Regions from separate parts of the Homo sapiens genome. Here all the other regions are linked to region 2. Evidence: fine-mapped QTL for protein levels in blood plasma. A gene starts in region 2. Each other region holds a variant in brackets. All regions are shown on one strand. Distances are between the middles of the regions.

Region 1 (7,562 bases), 71 kb after region 2:
AACCACCACGCACAAGGATGCCTCCCATGGGACCTGCCCTGTAGGATCACCTAGGATGTGTGGTCTGGGTGTCACATGTCATAGCAATACTGTGGGACGTGGACATAGCTTTGAAGATGAGCGTCTGTGGTCAGGGTCTGACCACCCCAGGTGGGGCAGAGGGGTGTGGGGAGCCAACTCACCTTTGATCCATTTCTGAAACATCCTCCAGGCTAGCAGGGAGGCCCCCACCAACAGAAGCAGCAACAATGCCAGCAGGGAGAGGAGCAGCGGGAGCCTGGAGGAGGCACAGGATGGTAAGGGCGGGGCCAACTTGCCTTCTCCAACTTACTTTTTTATTTTTATTTTTTATTTTTATTTTTTGAGACAGGATCTGGCTCTGTTACCCAGGCTGGAGTGCAGTGGTGATCATGGCTCACTGCAGCCTTGAACCCCTGGGCTCAAGTGATCCTCCTGCCTCAGCCTCCAGCTACAGGCACAGGCCACCACGGCTAATTTTTAAATTTTTCGTAGAGACTCAATCTTGCTATATTGCCCAGGATGGTCTCAGACTCCTGAGCTCAAGCCACCCTCCTGCCTCAGCCTCCCAAAATGCTGGGATGACAGGCATGAGCCAATATACCTGGTCTCCTTCTCTAACTTTTTAAGTAGATAGATAAGGTCAATTAAAAAAAATAGACAGTATAAAGCCCCCTTTCTACACACCCCCCATTTACACATTCCCCAATTTCCCCACATACACACACGTGCTGTTCTTAAGAACCTTCCAGAGTTTCTTTATGTGTATACAAGCAAATACGAATGTACGGGATCTCCTTTCTCTTTCACACAAAGGAGGCCTCGTCTAACACTATTCTGGTTTTACTTAGCAATACATCTTAGAGGTCTTTCCACGTCAGTACATAAAGAAGTCCCTCACTCTTTCCTATAGCTGCAGGGTATTCCAACACATGGATAGACTGTGATTTATTTAAATGTTCCCACTGAATGGGCATTTCCCCAGTCCTTTGCAATGGTAAACGTTGCTTATAAATCGCCTTGCAGCTCCACCTTTTCACACCTGACCACGCAGCAGCAGATTGACCAGGAGGCTGATGCAGCCCAGCTTCAGGTCCCTCCATTGCTTGGGCCCTTTCCTTCATGCCTACGTTTGCATTCATAATTTTCTCATCTTTTTCTTAGATTACCCACCCACCAACCCACCCCGCAAACTGCACAACCTTCAGGCCCCACAGAACTCAGCGCTGCCACCTATGTGTATCTACAGGCTAAACTTCTGGAAGTGGCATGTTCAAGCCTGAATTTTGCCTTGTCTTATATGTTGGCAGAAGCCTGTGGAGGGGTTTATGGATGTTGTCCAGTAAAGAATCTGGCTGGCCTTTGTCCCTAGCTCTTAGGAGGGAGGCTCTAAATCCTTGGAATGTCCCAAAAATTAGGAGTGTCTTTGTTGTTCATGAATCACACCTGGACTTTGGTAAGAGATGAGACAATAGGATGGGGCTGGTCACCAGAAAGACCAACTACGTAATTAGAGATTTGGAGCCCTGAGCCAGCCCAACCTCCCAAAGAGGGACTGGAGGTGGAGACAGTTCAATCACATCATGCCTATGTAATGAAACCCCAATAAAAACTCTGGACACCAAAGCTTGGAGGAGCTTCCTGGTTGATAAATATATTGAGGTGCCGCAGGGAGGGTGCAGGTGATGCTCCCTGATTCCACCTGGAGAGGGCACAGAAACTGTTTGGGAATCCTCCCAAGCCTTGTCCTATGTGTCTCTGCATTGGCTGGTCCTAATCTTTATCCTTTATCCTTATGATAAAACTGTAATTGTAAGTATAATGCTTTCCAGAGTTCTGAGTCTAACAAATTATTGAACCTGGGGGGGTCCTGGGAACCCCCAAATTTGCATCCAGTTGGTCAGAAGTGTGGTGGCCTGGGGATCCCCAAAGTTCGACTGGCATCTAAATCAGGGCGGTCTTGTGGGATCTGATTTAGATGTGGAAGCTCTTCACCTGTGGGGTCTGCACTAACTCTGGGTGGATAGTGCCAGGATGGAATTGTGGGGTTTTGTGCTAGAATAGGGAGTCCGTGAATCCCAGAAAAGGTTTGTGACTGCATGTGTTTTTCTGGGGAGAGTGTCCATAGATGTCAGATTCTATGTGGGGTTGGTGAACCCGAAAAAGGTTAAGAACCACTATTTAGAGAGGAGAACTCAAGGCTCTGGAGTCACATAAACCAGAATTGGAAGCTTAGCCTTAGCCTCTTGTAGCTACTTGACTGGGCAAATTGCTTCACCTCGCTGAGTCTCAGTTTACTCATCTGTAAAATGGGGATTGATGTGGGTTGGCTGGGTCCCCACCCAAATCTCATCTTGAATTGTAGCTCCCATATAATTCCCACGTGTTGTGGGAGGGACCCAGTGGGAGATAACTGAATCATGGGGGTGGTTTGCTCCATACTGTTCTTGTGGTAGTGAATAAGTCTCACGAGGTCTGATGGCTTTATAAGAGGAAACCCCTTTTGCTTGGTTCTCATTCTCTGTCTTGCCTGCTGCCATGTAAGACATGCCTTTTGCCTTCTGCCTTGATTGTGAGGCCTCCTCAGCCATGTGGAACTGTGAGTACATTAAAACCTCTTTCTCATTATAATTTATCCAGTCTCGGGTATGTCTTTATCAACGGTGCGAAAACAGACTAATACACGGAATGACAACAGTACAGGGCTGCAGTGAAAGGCAAGTGAGAATACTCATGTGAAGCATCTAACACGGGCCTCGTAGGATGTTACCAGCTGTCAGTAACTATCACTTTCCTTCCATCTGCCCCCCAACTTCCCCCCTACCTGAGCCCCCTTCCAAAGCCAAGGGCAGGTCCAAGCCGGGGTGTTCAGACTATGGCTTCCAACCTGGGCCTGGGGCAAAGGGAGCGATGCACACCTCCAGCTGGCCCACATGGCCAAGGTCCCCGCCCTGGGCTCCTCCTCTTAGCACAGGGCCCCCTCCATGTCTCAGGGGCTAGGGTGCTTACTGTGAGTTCACCACCTCCTCAGTTTCCTCCTGGATGCTGGCACTGTGGGTGGCACCCACTGCAAACAGGGTAGTGGATGATACAGGTGGAAATGCAGTTGTGATTGTTGAGGTCTTGGCCGCAGTGATACTTGCAGGTGTCATTGACGTTGATGCTGGTGGCAAAACCACAAGTCAGACCCAGGGAGCTGTCCTCTGGCTCTCCCACCACTCAGGATGCCTTTTTGGTTTGATTTCACACAAACTGCCCACTAAGGAAGGGGGCAGGATGCAGGACCCTGGGGCTAGAGTCTCTCCAGGACCCTCCTGGGCCAACTGGGCATTTCTGAACAGGACACGGGTGCCACTCCCAGTGGTCCTGATTTTCCATCCTGCTGATGAGGGTCCAGGTGCTCCTGCGAAACTCCATGCTGCAGAGGAGTCTGTCTACACTGCAAATCTGACCTGTCATGTGGTAAGGCTCCCCCTGAGGACAGCAGCTTCCCATCTGGCCCCCCAGCCTCTCTGTTCAGCCCCACCCCTCCCCCACTCAGCTGCACTTCCGTTGGGGCTGAGCCACAGGTGCGCTCCTGGCTCCTTCACAGGCAACGCTCTCTCAGCCTCCCTGTCACTGGACCCTTCCCTTCTTCAATACTGGGCAGACATGTCAGCTGCTCCAGGAGAGACCCCCTGACTGTGTTCCCCTGGCCCCCACCTCTCTCTCTCTTACGCACACACACACACACACTGTCTGCTTCACGTCTCTGATCTGATTCCTGCCCCAACAATTCCAACCTGAGCCTATTTAGGCGCTGAGGGAAGGAGGGGCTCACCCGGGAACACGGACACCTCAACCTCGACAACGGGATCATGAAAGTCTCGGAGCCATGGTGTATCCACCCCACACCAGTAGGTGCCTGCATCCTCCTCTGTGAGATTCTCCAGGGTCACTGTGAAGCTGAGGTTTGCAGGACTGTCCCTGATGGACACTCGGCCGTTCCTTTTTCCTGCTGACCCTTTGGTCTCCACAATCTTGTCACATAGGAAAATCTGTGGTGGTCTGCACCAGTATTTGTTGAGGGTCCTGTGTTCCTTCTCATAGGGACACTGCACACTCAGGGATCCCCCCACGGGGCCCGCCACGGTCCTGCATTTGCTCAGAGCAAAACATCCTGGAAAACACAAGCCAGAGTCCCAGCTCCTCCTCAGATGAGCCTGGTCAGGGGTGCCCTGGGGTCAGGGCCGCATGGACCCTGGGGGTGTGGAGGAGGCAGCGGCAGGCAGAGAGGCCTTGTCCACCCAGGAGCGGGGACTGAGGATGAGAGGCTACCTCCGCACACAGGTGGGAATGGGGCAGAGGCTTTCCATGGAGACCGGAAGAGCTCAGGCTGGGTGCCCTGGAGTCACCTCCTCCAAAGATTCCCCGACTCCACATCAGCACCCCCAGCCCTCAGCCCCTGACTCCTTCACCTCATATCAGCCCCATCAGCCAGATCACAGCTTGAGTATTCTCTTTTCTGCTCTACCACCCTCAAGATTTTGCTCATAGTAGCCCCTTTCTCCAGCCCCCTGCCTCCTTTCCCTTACCCTTCCCACCCCTCTCACCCACCAGGGGCCTCCTGCTTCCAAACCTGCCAGGAGCATGAGAACTCACCCCTAAGCACCTGCACTCCCGGGAGGGCCACCCCAGCCCTGGGCAACCCTGCAAGAGGAAGACCGGCCCACACACTGATCTGGTCCCACCAAGGGGCAAACCCGGGCAGTAATAGGGTTGTCAAGCCATTTTGACAAGAATACTGGCTGGGTACAGTGGGTTATGCCTGTAATCCCAGCACTTTGGGAGGCTAAGGTGGGTGGATCACTTGAGGCCAGGAGTTCGAGACTAGCCTGGCCGACATGGTGAAACCCTGTCTCTACTAAAAATACAAAAATTAGCTGGGCGTGGTGGCATGCGCCTGTAATTGCAGCTACTGGGGAGGCTGAGGCACAAGAATCGCTTCAACCCTGGAGGCGGAGGTTATGTTGAGCTGAGATGGCACCACTGCACTCCAGCCTGAGTGACAGGGTGAGACTCTGTCTCAAAAAAAAAAAAAAAGAGTCACAAACGCAGAAGGCTTGCTGACGAAAACTTTCATCCTGTGTCTTACCTTAGTTTGCCCAGCTCTCCTAGACTTAAATCTCGGAAATAAATGAACTTCCTTGAAAATTATGTCTGACATTTTCCCAAATAATTATCAGATGCAAAGCAAGGAGAGTAAGGTGATGGCTCGAAGCTAGTGTTGGCTGCCAAGCAGAGGACACATGGCCCCTGCCCCAGGCAGATGGGCACAGGCCTGCTGGGCAGTTGTGTGTGCAGTGTCTCAATGCCCTTGTAATTCTGTGATTAGGCCCCATATTGTTCAAGGATGGTGGGGATGGGGGCTTGCTCTTCTTTCCTTGGGTTAGAACTCTTTGATTTTTTTTTTTTTTT[G/TG]AGATGGAGTCTTGCTCTGTTGCCCAGGCTGGAGTGCAGTGGCGGGATCTCGGCTCATTGCAACCTCTGCCTCCCGGGTTCAAGCGATTCTCCTGCCTCAGCCTACCGAGTAGCTAGGATTACAGGCGTCCACCACACCCGGATAATTTTTGTGTTTTTAGTAGAGACAGGGTTTCACCATGTTGGCCTGGCTGGTCTCGAACTCCTGACCTCAGGTGATCCACCTGCCTCGGCCTCCCAAAGTGCTGGGATTACAGGCATGAGCTACTGCGCCTGGCCAGAACTCTTTAATTTTACTTACTGTTTCAGATGCTAAATCTCCTCACACATGAGACTTTGGTAGGGGTCTCCTTCTTATACCTTCAACGTCTACAGGTGCCTTGCACCTGTAGGCCCTCTACAAAAACTTCAGTGCAAGCTTCTCCTGGACCCCACTAGCTCCACACCCAGCCCACGGCTGCCCAAAGATAAGCTCCTCTGTGCCTCTCCCAGAGTCCCACCCAAACCTCTCCACGCCTGGATGTACACATCCCCCTGCAGAGAAGGCCTTTCTAAGCTTGTCACAGGTGTGATGCTTCCTGAGGCTCTCAGCAGCAATTGCCAGGACAAAGCAGAAAGATCCTCAGAACCATCTGCGTTTACATCTCTACCCTATTACGTATCAGCTGTGTGTTCTGGGGCAAGTTAGTTAACCTCTCTGAGCTTCAGACACCTTGTCTATAGAGTGGTGACAATTGTCCCTGACTCATATGGCCTTTGAGGGTGTTAAATGAGATCACAGGTATAAAATGCCTGGTAAATAACATTAGGTTGAATCACATGAAATGGCTGATATTAAACTTTTTGACCAAGACAACAGGGTTTCACATGACTCCAGCTAATAAAAATAGATAACCTCTGGGCTGACTAAATAAGACATGACAAGAGAAAAGGACCATAGATGAAGAAAGAATGAAGAGTCAAGATATTTTGCAGAAATTCTCTACATAAAATTCATAAACTTAGATGAAAGTTATTTTCTAGAAAAACACAAATCACTAAAATTGACACATATTAAGTACTTAATAAGTAAATGGAGCCTGGGCAACATAGTGAGATTCCATCTCTACAAAAAAATACAAAAATTAGCCAGGTGTGCTGGTGCACACGTGTGGTCCCAGCTACTCAGGAGGCTGAGGTGGGAGGATCATTTTAGCCCAGGAGGTTGTGGCTGCAGTGAGCTATGATCGCATCACTGCACTTCAGCCTGGGTGACAGAGTGAGACCCTGACTCAAATAAATAAATAGGCCAGGTGCAGTGGCTCATGCCTGTAATCCTAGCACTTTGGGAGGCCAAAGTGGGAGGATTGCTTGAGCCTTAGGCATTTGAGGCCAGCCTGGGCAATGTGGTGAGACCCCCATCTCTACCAAAAACACAAAAAATTAGCCAGGCATGGTGGCACGTGCCTGTATTCCCAGCTACTCAGGAGGCTGAGGCGGGAGGATCACTTGAGTCCAGGAGGTGGAGGTTGCAGTGAGCTGTGATCACACCACTGCACTCCAGCCTGGGCGACAGAGTGAGACTCTATCTCAAAAAAAATAAATAAAAACTGTCAGTTCCCAGCCCTCCTTCACCCAAGACACTGTTCCTGCTCCCTGTCCTGACCCGATTCCCTGCCTCTCCTGGGCTGCGAATCGTCATCTTTCTTTGTCCATGTTTTGGCTTCTCTCCTGACCTCAGTGACCCCACCACCTCTGCCCACTGCACCCAATCCTGTCTCTCGTCCTACCTCCAGTGTCTGACTTCCCTTCGGATTTAGTTTCTTTCTCCCTCTCTCTCTCTCCCTCTAGCTCTCTCTCTTTCTCTCTCTCCTGATTAACTTCTCTTCTCTGAAATCTTGGATAAAAAACTGTCACCCAATCATCTCCCCAAAGCTCTGTTCCACCTGTGAGGGTGTCATTATAATTTAGAGATTGCGAAGTGTCAGAAAACCCTCCATTTACTTCCCCACTTACCTGGAACGATCACATGGATCCCCAGTGCTCCCAGGCTTGTGTTTCTGCGCTTTCTCTCTTCCAACCTGAATCACCACCCCAAACCCCTCTAA
Region 2 (5,489 bases):
CTGGATCCAGGAGGCTGGAGACACCTACCAGGTGCTGGGGCCTGCCAGGACCTGTGTGCAGAGGCCAGGTCAGGTGGGTGCCATCCTGTGACAGCAGGAGCCATTGGGAGTTCAGCAGCGCCTCCCCAGGGCCATGTGTGTGTGTCAGGGATCACATTGCTGATTCTGTGGAGAATGAAAGGGGTGGGTATGAGCAGAAGGGGAGACCAGGTCAGCCCATGAAAGAGCCGGGATACTTCAAAGCCAGGCCCAGGCCAGACCTGAGCACTGGGCTAATTGGAGGCCCTGGGATTGCACTGGGCTAGAGATAGTCCCATGATGTGAGTCTGGGGGCATCAACACCAATGACCCCAGTGCATGCTGTGTCCCTGAGAGTGTAAATGGAGGGAGGACAGGGCAGGTCGAGGGTGCAGAGACCCCTTCATGGTGCCAGGTTTGCCCAGACTCCCATCACTCTCCACTCAACCTCATGGCTGTGTGCACATACTGGTGCTATTGACTCTGATAGGAAGAAAGGAACAGAAATCTGTAGGAGGGTTGGGAGAGTCAAGGAATATGCTTAAGGCATGAGAAGGTGGAGAAGGGGTGATGCCCTCCAGGACAGACAGGAGGTAAATCCTGTGTCTGACTAGCCTCCTTGCCCTTTCCAGGGTAAAGACACCCTGAGCCCATCACGTCAGGAGAACCAGCCATGCCGAGTGTGGATAGACCTGGGTTCCCGCCTCCTGGGAAGGCCTGTCTGCCATGTCTGCTCCCTGCGGAGGCCCCTGGCCATCACAGTGGACCCAGGATAGACACCAGCAGCCGCTGCTCATGACAAACTGTCCTCTCAGTCACCAAACACCCCTCCGTGTGCCCTGGGGTGTGTGCTGGCTCAGTCGCAGCCTCACATCCTCCACAAAGTCCCACTTCAGCATCTTCACATGTCTGAACTCTCTCTCTATTCTCAGTTCTCTGCCCTGATTCCCACTGGGGCATGGATTTTGGCAAGAAGACAAGATGGAAAAGGAGGGTCTCGGGTGGGTGATGCCGCTGTGTGTGTAGGTCTGGGGGCAGGGGCACAAGAGGAAAACTCCCCAAGCCTGTGGGATTTTAACCTGGTTGGGGACTCAGCACCAAAAAGGGACATGCAGATGGTGTCTGGGTTCATAGCGCTAACTTCTGAGGCCAGAAGAAGAGCTGGGGGTCTTAGGGGCAGAGGTCTCTGCGGGGACCTAGCTGAAGATTAAGGGACACAACCTCTCTCTGGTCACCTCCAAGGCTAAAGAAGGTGGCAGATTTAGCCTCCAACCACAAGATTGTCCATCCTGACCAGGAAGTGACATGTCACAGAGGGTGGAGCAGCCCATGTGGTAGGAAATGGCCCAGCTTGGCTCTGCCTTCTGCAGTGTGAGTAACACACTGAAGCCAGAAGCTGTGGGCTGTGGGGAAGTGGCTGCATCGCCACCCAAGGGACCCTGGACTTTGCCAGACGTCAGGGTTGAGAGGAGCCACTAGCACCATCCCAGAGCTGTCAGCACCGGCCTCAGCCCAGGCGGCTCTCTCCCTGAGCTTCCTGTACCCTGACCCTCTCCAGCCTCAGACCTGAGACAGGGCTGGACAAGGAAGCAGAGAGCAGAAGAAAAGCAGAAGCGAAGCTCAGATCTGCTGGGAGGAGATTACATTTTGTCCCCTCCTGGGGTCTTGCACAGTGGCAGGTGACATTCGTGTTACAGGAATGACTGCCAGGGCCTGGGCCTCGTGGCGGTCTTCAGCTCTGCTCCTCCTGCTTGTCCCAGGTGAGTGGGCCGACCCTGGACTTGGGGAGCTCTGTCCTGAGTGGGAGAGGGCAGGGAGGGGTGCAGGCGCTGGAGTAGCGGTCATAGAGGGGAGTGGGGCAGGGAGAGGGGAGGAGGGCAAAGGAGCACCCAGGAGCGGTCAGCAGCTGCCTCACCAGGGGACAGCAGGCGGCAGGGCACAGCACGGGGGAGGCCTATTCCTCTGTGCCCGAGACAGGAAGCCCTGGTGGGAGGTGATGCTGTGACTGTCATTGCCAAAGTTATCCAATCACAAATTTTATCTGGGACGATCACACACACAGTCACACTCACACGCACACACGGTCACACTCACACAGTCTCACACACATGCACACACAGTCACACTCACACAGTCTCACACACACATGCACACAGTCACACATGCACACACAGTCACACTCACATGCACACACAGTCACACATGCACACACAGTCACACACAGTCACACTCACACAGACAGTCACACTCACACAGTCACACACACAGAGTCACACTCACATGCACACACAGGCCCGCACACACCCAGTGTTTCCCTAGCCTTGCCTTTCCAGTCTCCATGGAAACTTCCCATGCCCTTCCCACCTCTGCACAGAGGGAGCCTCCCACCCTCAGTCCCTGTTCCTGGGTGGACAAAGGCTGCCTGCCTGCCATTGCCTTCTCCACACGCCCAGGGTCCATGAGGGGCTGACACTGCGGCACCCCTGACCAGGCCCCTCTGGTAAGGAGACAGGATTTTGGCTTGTATTTTTCAGGCTATTTTCCTCTGAGCCACCCCATGACCGTGGCGGGCCCCGTGGGGGGATCCCTGAGTGTGCAGTGTCGCTATGAGAAGGAACACAGGACCCTCAACAAATTCTGGTGCAGACCACCACAGATTCTCCGATGTGACAAGATTGTGGAGACCAAAGGGTCAGCAGGGAAAAGGAATGGCCGAGTGTCCATCAGGGACAGTCCTGCAAACCTCAGCTTCACAGTGACCCTGGAGAATCTCACAGAGGAGGACGCAGGCACCTACTGGTGTGGGGTGGATACACCGTGGCTCCGAGACTTTCATGATCCCATTGTCGAGGTTGAGGTGTCCGTGTTCCCGGGTGAGCCCCTCCTTTTCTCAGCACCAGGCCTGCCTGAGCCTAGGGCTGGTCATTCTGTCCCTGAAGAAAGAAGTGGAACAGGAGGGTGTGAGCCTGGGGGTTGGTGAGTCAGGACACTGTGTGCCGCTGTGTGTGGATGAGTGTGAGTGCGTCTTTGTGTATGCGTGCCTGCATAGGAGTTGTGGTGTGGTTTGTGTGTGTGTGCACCTGCATGTGTGTGTTGGGAGGGTGGGCGCCCACAAAAGCACCCTGGCCCTGTGGCTGGAGACCCCCCGCTGTGGGCCCTCCCTCACGGCCTCAGGCCTGAAACTTTCCTGGGTGGGGTCTGTGAGGCCACCCCTGACTCTGGGGTCCTTGCTACCTCCCTGTATTGACAAGGGCCGGATCCATACTGAAGGGTGCCCACTGTCCCGCCTGGGTCTAACTCGCTCTTCCCCACGGGGAATTGGACCCCCCCATCATTGGCTCCTCTCACTCAAGGCTGCCCCTGCCCTGGGGCCTGCATGGATGCCGCCCTGTCTGGAGGGTCCTGAGGCCGCAGCCTCACAGCCCTGTCCTGGGAGCTCCTGCAGCAGCCACTGGAGGACACAGGAAGGAGCCCCAGAGCCCTGGGTGGGGTTCTCATGCTCCTGGGAACCACATCCTGCCCCTGAGGCTGACCTGTGTGTCCCCCTTATTCTCTGGCACCTTTTACCACAGGAGGGAACCCCAGAAATTGCCCCCTCAGGCAAAGGGACCTGTGGATGGAAATGAGCTGAGACTGGCACGGACCTGAGGGCCCTTTCCCGTGCCGAAGATCATTCTTCCCTCAAAGGCCCCCTCCTGTCTCACAAGACACAAACCCAGTGGCCTCAGTGTGGTTGCTTTTCCATCGTTTTCTTCTGACAATGTCCCAGGTTCCTCGGAGCATCTTCTTGTTCTCCATTTCCCCGGGGGCGACGTGTCCCTCCTGCGCCCTTTGTGCCTTCCTATCTAGGAGTGAGGAGCTAAGATCCCACCTGAGGGCGCCAGGGAGAGGAGGAAAGGGCCCTTATCCAGCTGTATTCACCACGGGCCGCCGCCCAGGCTTCACCGGGCATCCCCTCTCTAGATCTTTCTTCCTGGGCATTCCCTCCTGCTGAGAGGATGGTCCAATGGCCTTGTGGGGCCGCAGCATGGCTGCCATTTGGGGCTGAGTGGACTCGGGTCCCATCGTTCAGGGAGGACCCCACTGACTTCCTGTCCTCACTTCCAGCCTCTCTCCAGCCACTGCTGTGCCCAGGGCCCTGGCTTCGCAGTCACTCTGGGTCACCCTTCGCAGAGTAAACATCACCCCATTCCCCCAGGTCACCCTGTCCCTCCCTGGCTGGGGTGAAACCTGGAGACCCGTACCTTTGCCACAGGTGAGCAGGGCAGCTCTCACATCTGAAATGGTGTCCTGGCTCTGCAGTACCTAGGGATGGGACAAGGAGAGGCCCAGGACCCTGGTCAGGCCTGGGTGTGGCCGTGGGGCATGATGGATGCAGGGCATCTGTCCAGCACATCATTGGTGACCTTGTCTGTGAAAATTGGAGCAGAACAGGTGAGAGTAAGTGGGAGACCCATGTGATGTCATCAAGGTTGACCTGTGTTTCACCCACAGCCGGGACGACCACAGCCTCCAGCCCCCAGAGCTCCATGGGCACCTCAGGTCCTCCCACGAAGCTGCCCGTGCACACCTGGCCCAGCGTGACCAGAAAGGACAGCCCCGAACCCAGCCCACACCCTGGGTAAGGTGCCTGCGCATAGGACTGGGCCACGCTGGCGGCCTCCCCACTGCGTGTGATGTTTAGGGGACTCGGATGTCCCTTCTTCCAGTCCCTTCTTTGTTCGCACCTCCCACACCAAACGTGAAGGTTCTATTAAGTGTCAGGCGCTCCTTTTGGGATTGGGTCACAGCAGGGAACCACACAGCCACTGTCCTGCCCTGGTGGAAGTTGAGTTCTACTGCGTGGATTCACGCATTGAGCAAGTCAGCACAGAGGCTGATGTACAAATACAGCAAAGGGTAATGAATGCTGGGATGAGATGTTTGACTCTTGGGTTTGGGGAGAGCGTGTGCAGGTGTTGGAGTTGCTATTTCACTGACGATGATCAGAAGAGGGTTTGAGAATTAGAGGACATGAGCACAGAGACCTCAAGGGTTGGGGGCTGGGCACTCTGGGGTCTGGAGGAAGAAGGGTCCAGGTGGAGGGAGGAGTGAGGCAAATGTCCTGCGAGGAGCCTTGGGACCTGGCCAGGCCAGGGAAGGGGGCAGATGCTCTGGGGTCCGGTGGCCCTGGTCCTCTCCCCTGCCTCTCTCGCAGCCCTGGCCAGAGTTTCATCCTGTTTGATAAGCCCAGTCCTCTGAGGAGCTGAGAGCTGAGCTGTCCATTCATTAATTCCTTCAACAACCACTGAAGTTGTAGGGCAGATTATTGGAGACTCCGGGTAGGCAGCAGGTACTCACTGTGAATGAAACAAATGGTCCCTGCCCTCCTGGAAACGCTGTGTACAGGAGAGTTGACACCAAACAAATAACCCTTTGTGAATTCCGGGACCCCAGCTGGGTAACCCTCCATGGGGAGCACAGAGGTAGAC
Region 3 (5,837 bases), 78 kb after region 2:
AAGAAAAATTTGCAAATCTCTGCAAATAAGTCTGCAAACCTGGGCGACACTGATGATTTTTTAGGAAAATATAAATCATCAATGTAGGCCAAGAATAGACTTTTTTTTTTTTTAAGAGACGGGGTCTTGCTTGCTATACTGCCCAGGCCAGTCTCGGACTCCTGGGCTTAAGCTATCCTCCCACCTCAACCTCCTAAAATTCTGGGATTACAGGTGTGAGCCACTGCACCCAGCTAGATTTTTTTTAATGTAGACCAAAAATGATGAGTGTTATTAAGAAATTCTTTCCCTTCCATCAAAAAAAAAGAAGCAAAACTCAGACAGTTTTACAAGCTAGTTCTCTAAAAACTTCAAGGAACAAATAATTTCAATTTTATGTAAACATTTGCAGAGAACACGGAAACAGGGAGATCTCCCTAATTCTTTCCATGAAGCCAGCATAATAAATCAAGACAAACATCTGACCAGATCTCCTAATGTAGTTCACCTCCTTCATAGCTGAAAGGATAATAATAATAATAATTTCTATAAATAATAAAAATGGTATTTTGTGGGGGCCGGAGGCCAAGGCTGGCAGATTGCCTGAGCTCAGGAGTTCGAGACCACCTTGGGCAACATGGTGAAACCCCGTCTCTACTAAAATACAAAAAAATTAGCCAGCAGTGGTGGTGGGTGCCTGTAAGCCCAGTTATTCAAGAGGCTGAGGCAGGAGAATCACTTGAACCCGGGAGGCGGAGGTTGCAGTGAGCTGAGATCAAGCCACTGCACTCCAGCCCTGGGTGATAGAGTGAGATTCTGTCTCCAAAAAAATAAATAAAAATAAAATAAAAAATGTTTTGTAGGGGCCAGGTGTGGTGGTTCATGCCTGTAATCCCTGCATTTTGGGAGGACAAGATGGGAGGATCCCTTGATCCCAGGAGGTGGAGGCCAGCCTGGGCAACATGGTAAGACCCTGTCCCTAAAAAAAATTAAGAATCCAGCTGGGTGTGGTGGCACACACCTGTAGTCTCAGCTACTGGGGAGGTTGAGGTGGGAGGATCACTTGAGCCCGGGAGGTGGAGGCTACAGTGAACCGTGATTGCACCACCGCACTCCAGTTTGGGTGACGGAGGGAGACCCTGTCTCAAAAAAATAAAAATGTTGGCCAGGCTTGGTGGCTCACGCCTGCAATCCCAGCACTTTGGGAGGCCAAGGTGAGTGGATCACCTGAGGTTGGGAGTTTGAGACCAGCCTGACCAACATGGAGAAAGCCCATCTCTACTAAAAATACAAAATTAACCAGGCATGGTGGTACATGCCTGTAATCTCAGCTACTCGGGAGGCTGAGGCAGGAGAATCACTTGAACCTGGGAGGCGTAGGTTGCAGTGAGCCAAGATCGCGCCACTGCACTCCAGCCTGGGCAACAAGAGCAAAACTCCATCTCAAAAAATAAATAAATAAATAAATAAATAAATAAATAAATAAAAGTAAAAATGCTTTGTGAATAGTCATTGGTGGATCCCTTCTTCCTAATAATGAGAAGCTCTGGTCCTTTTTCCCTGAGTCAGCAACAAGGCAGGGACAACCACTACCACTATGTCCGCTGGGCCTCACTCCGGCTGTACCAGCCAATGAGTCAATGGGAGAAAGAGAAACAGATATTAGACAGGAACTGAAACCTTCCCATGCACACCGACCCTATGAAACAGAAGAACACCCAAGAGAATCGCAGGAGCACCTGTTATGGGAGGATGACCCGTTTCCAAGTCAAGACACCAAAAGTAATAACCTTCCCACAGACAAGTAGTTAGCAAATATAATTGCAGAAAACCTCCGATCTGTAAGGAAAGCAACCACAAAGACGTACAATACCCTAGGACTAGGCCTGAGGAGTCTGCACAGGAGCTGTCTGAGGAGAGCGGTGGACGTGACTGAAGGCACAGCAGGTGACTCTGCGGGAGGAATCCCTGCGCTTGGACAGGGAAGACTCAACTCCACGCTTCTCCCTAAAGAAGATCTCAGCGCTTCTCTGCCCGATCTTTTCCCTCCTCGCCCTCCCCACCACCTTTTCTGTCCCCTCTGTCCCATATCCCCTTCTTGGAGAGGACTGACCCCTGGTTCTCAGGCCCATGCAGGGGCTAACCCCAGCCAAGGCTGCCTCGGGACTTCCCCCTGCTCAGGCCCCAGCCGCTGGGCTGCCCTGGTTAAATCTCCGCATTCCAGAGACTATCGATCTGCTCCCCACCCCGACCCTATCTCCCTCACCGCCCCACCCCCTCCTCCGTACCCTGCACCTAGTGAGGCCGGCATCTCCCCCACCCTCCCCACACCCCCCTCCTCCATACCCTGCACCCAGTGAGCCCGGCATCTCCCCCACCCTCACCACATGCCCCTCGCAGTCAGTGGCTGCCACTCTCCACCCACCCTGACACATCCTGCCTCTCGTCCCCCTTCCTGTAAGAATTCAACTGAAAACCTAAAAGGTCCCTTTTCTGCACCCACCCCTTATCACTTGCCCCGCTGTGGTTCAGCCAAGGTACGTGGGTGCAGAGCCGGGAGAGGCCCTGGCTCCTTCCTCTCCCAGGGGTGTGGACCTTCATCTGTCCATCTTATGTGGTAGACAGAGCGCACCGCATTCTGCGTTCTGCACGGAGTCCAGACTCGGGGCGTCTCGTGTGATACCTGCCCTGCGGCCCTGCCCCTCGCACCCTCCCTCCCTGCCGCAGACTTTCCCGGGAAGGGAAACTCTCACCTGGGACCCAGAGAAGCAACAGAGCCCAAGGCAGCCACATGGTCCCTTCCCCAGCACAGGCGGCACTTGCAGCAGCTCCAGGCCCTACCTGGACCCGAGGGGAAAGTCACGCCTCCAAGGCCCC[GACTTCTGCTTTTCT/T]TGGTGCCGCGCTGCTTCCTTGTTCAGCTTCTTTTGGTTCTATTCCTGGAGCCGGTCAGAAAATGCAGGAAGCTGGTGAGCCCCGACTAAGACTCCCTAGAAACGGCACGTCCTCCTTAACGCTGGTTGAGGCTGCAGGTTCTTCGGCTATTTCTAGTGATGAGACCTCTCCCTGTAGTGACTCCGTAGCTTGCAGGACTGATCCCCGACTCTCACTTCCCCGGGTCTCCTCCTAGTGGAAGGCCCAATAACTCCTCCCTCCTTTCCTTGTGGTCAAGGTGGGCAACCCTGGGGGTGGGACCCGCTGAGCTGGCTCCTCTCACCCTCGGTGGTGCCCACGAGGAGGCTGCCAGGGGGAACTCCCCTTTCCTGAGTCCCTTCCCTGAGTCCCTTGGAGGTCCAGGCCTGGGCTTCGGGGCTGAGGGAAGGGGAGTTGTCATCGTGACTCCAGAGTCCCTGAATGGTTCCTAGTCTTGGAAATGTGTCCTCAACTTGACACAGAGGTCCTCCGGCCATGCCTTCCTTTCTATATAGCCCCATTGGAGCCAACTCGGGGCTGGGCACAGAGCAGGGACTCAGCGAGCCTGCAAGGACCCCTTTCCTGATCCACACAGAGTGCAGACTCTAAACACACACACGCTCACACTCACATACACACTCACACCCACACACACTCACCCACACACATTCACAAACACACACTCACATACACACACTCACACTCACCCACACACATTCACAAACACACACTCACATACACACTCACACAAACACACTCACCCACACACATTCACAAACACACTCACATACACACTCACACAAACACTCACCCACACACATTCACAAACACACACAAACACACTCAGCCACACACATTCACAAACACACAAACACACCCACACATTCACAAACACACTCGCATACACACAAACACACATTCACACACCCACACACATTCACAAACACACACTCACATACACACTCACATGCACACATATTCACACACACCCACACATTCACACTCACACATACACACAAACACATTCACAAACAAACACGTTCATGCACATACACTCACATATACACACTCACACACACATTCACAAACACTTTCACAAACACATACACACACGTACACACAAACACATACACACATTCACAAACACGTTCATGCACATACACACACACACACAAACATTCACACACCCACACACAAACACACACAAACACACTCACACTCTCACATACACACACACTCACCCAAACACACTCACATACACACACATTCACACACACCCACACACATACACTCACACAAACACATTCACACACCCACACACATTCACAAACACACACATACGCACACATTCACAAACACACGTTCATGCACACACACATATACACACACACAAACACACAGGCACTCTCACCCACACACATTCACAAACTCACATTCACACACAAACACAAATTCACACACACTGATACAAACACACATACACATTCACACATTGAAACACTCAAATTCACACAACGCACTTACATATACAACTGAAATACACTCACACATTCACACACAAACTCACACACTGACACATTCACACACAGTGACATACACTCACACACACACAGTCTCACACACGTGCCTTGAGTAGGTGCCCCAGCTTGCACAGAATGACCAGGTGGGCACAGGAAATGCCACTCCTAATGTGTAATGCGTCACCTGGGAGCTTGCAGTCCCCAAGCTCAGAGTGTCCACCCACATGGAGCCCTGTGCCAGCTATGGGATCCCAAGAATATCCTTCCCTCTGGCCCTTTTTGGAATTTGTCACTTTCCTCTTCCTTCTGAACACAGGGGCGCCTTGCCCACGAAGGTGTCAGGAAGCCAAGGAGACCTATGGGCTCTGCTGCTGGAAGATTCAATGACAAAGCCTGGTGGACATTGTGGAAATTTTCATGATGATGCAGTCATAGATTAACTAAACCTCATTAAGATCCAAGACACTTCGGGCCGGGCGCGGTGGCTCACTCCTGTAATCCCAGCACTTTGGGAGGCCGAGGCAGGCGGATCACGAGGTCAGGAGTTCGAGACCAGCCGGGCCAACGTGGCAAAACCCTGTCTCTACTAAAAATAAAAAAAATGTGGCGGGCACCTGCAATCCCAGCTACTCGGGAGGCTGAGGCAGGAGAATCGCTTGAACTCGAGAGGCAAAGGTTGCGGTGAGCCAAGATCGTGCCATTGCACCCCAGCCTGGGTGACAAGAGCAAGACTCCGTCTCAAAAAAAAAAAGATCCAAGACACTTTGGATCATGACACTGTTGAGCTGAACATAAAAATGCAGGAGATGTGTCATATTCGGTGGCTTATGTGGCCTGATCATTGCAAAGTTTCTCAAAAATTATTTTTTGATTCAACCATGACCAAAAAGGCGCTGCTGCAATCTTGAACGTCCAGGCCAGACAGAGAAGCAGAAGGCTAAGTTCTGGCGTGGCTTGTCCACTTACCACCGAATGAACTTGAGCAAAGCCTGTGGCTTCTGTAAAACGTCAATAATGACAGCTCCTCTGTGGGAATAAATATTATTATGATTATACAAATACTGAAATGTCAGTGTTCCTTAACATCCTCAGGTCAGTTTTTTCTGAGGGAATATATCTCTACTTTTGATGAAAGGTAATAGGAAAATTGGATTCCACAGGAAGTGCGCTTTACACTTTAATCTATGGGATGCAATTCTCCTTAGGCACATAGAGAAACACCTGACTTACTGCAAAGGAGAAGGGATCAGGGGACTTAGACCCTGCCACGCCCATCCTGCTCACCCCATCCTGTCCACAAACCCAAAGGAAGAAACAAAATGGTGCAAAATAACCACAAAACATGAGAGTTTTTTGCCGGAAGTTGCACATTCCGGCTGTGTCCCGATAACCATCAGGTGACATGACTCAGGGGGAGGAGGAGATGAG

Alleles and levels. Alleles are on the strand shown, and positions count from the first base shown. The strength of an association depends on the size of the effect and on how common the allele is.
As copies of G replace TG in region 1, the plasma level of the protein whose gene starts at base 1,385 in region 2 goes up (moderate association).
For the plasma level of the protein whose gene starts at base 1,385 in region 2, GACTTCTGCTTTTCT is the high allele of the variant in region 3 and T is the other (moderate association).

Evidence for each region. PIP is the chance, under the fine-mapping model, that this variant and not a neighbour inherited with it causes the effect. Protein levels are from antibody-based Olink assays in UK Biobank. Linkage for the fine-mapping came from a reference panel and not from the study's own genotypes, which makes the PIPs less certain.
Region 1: its variant is fine-mapped to the plasma level of the CD300C protein (UK Biobank, PIP above 0.99).
Region 3: its variant is fine-mapped to the plasma level of the CD300C protein (UK Biobank, PIP above 0.99).

What each region holds. Positions count from the first base shown.
Region 1 is chr17:74,470,151-74,477,712 of GRCh38, reverse strand. CD300A (CD300a molecule) reads right to left here. Exons shown (of 7, transcript NM_007261.4): 2 at 3,839-4,177; 3 at 3,028-3,181; 4 at 183-277. Among named protein-coding and RNA genes, the nearest start is that of CD300A, 7.3 kb to the right of the region's middle. The variant G/TG (reference allele first, on the strand shown) is at 5,476.
Region 2 is chr17:74,542,011-74,547,499 of GRCh38, reverse strand. CD300C (CD300c molecule) reads left to right here and starts at 1,385. Exons shown (of 4, transcript NM_006678.5): 1 at 1,385-1,778; 2 at 2,553-2,891; 3 at 4,513-4,639. The coding sequence starts at 1,718. It also overlaps a transcript of LOC107985074 not described here.
Region 3 is chr17:74,463,639-74,469,475 of GRCh38, reverse strand. CD300A (CD300a molecule) reads right to left here and starts at 2,842. Exons shown (of 7, transcript NM_007261.4): 1 at 2,733-2,842. The coding sequence starts at 2,772. LOC124904056 (a long non-coding RNA gene) reads left to right here and starts at 1,702. Exons shown (of 2, transcript XR_007065899.1): 1 at 1,702-1,926; 2 at 4,726-5,468. RefSeq lists an enhancer at 1,701-1,830 and silencers at 2,191-2,250, 2,291-2,350. The variant GACTTCTGCTTTTCT/T (reference allele first, on the strand shown) is at 2,857.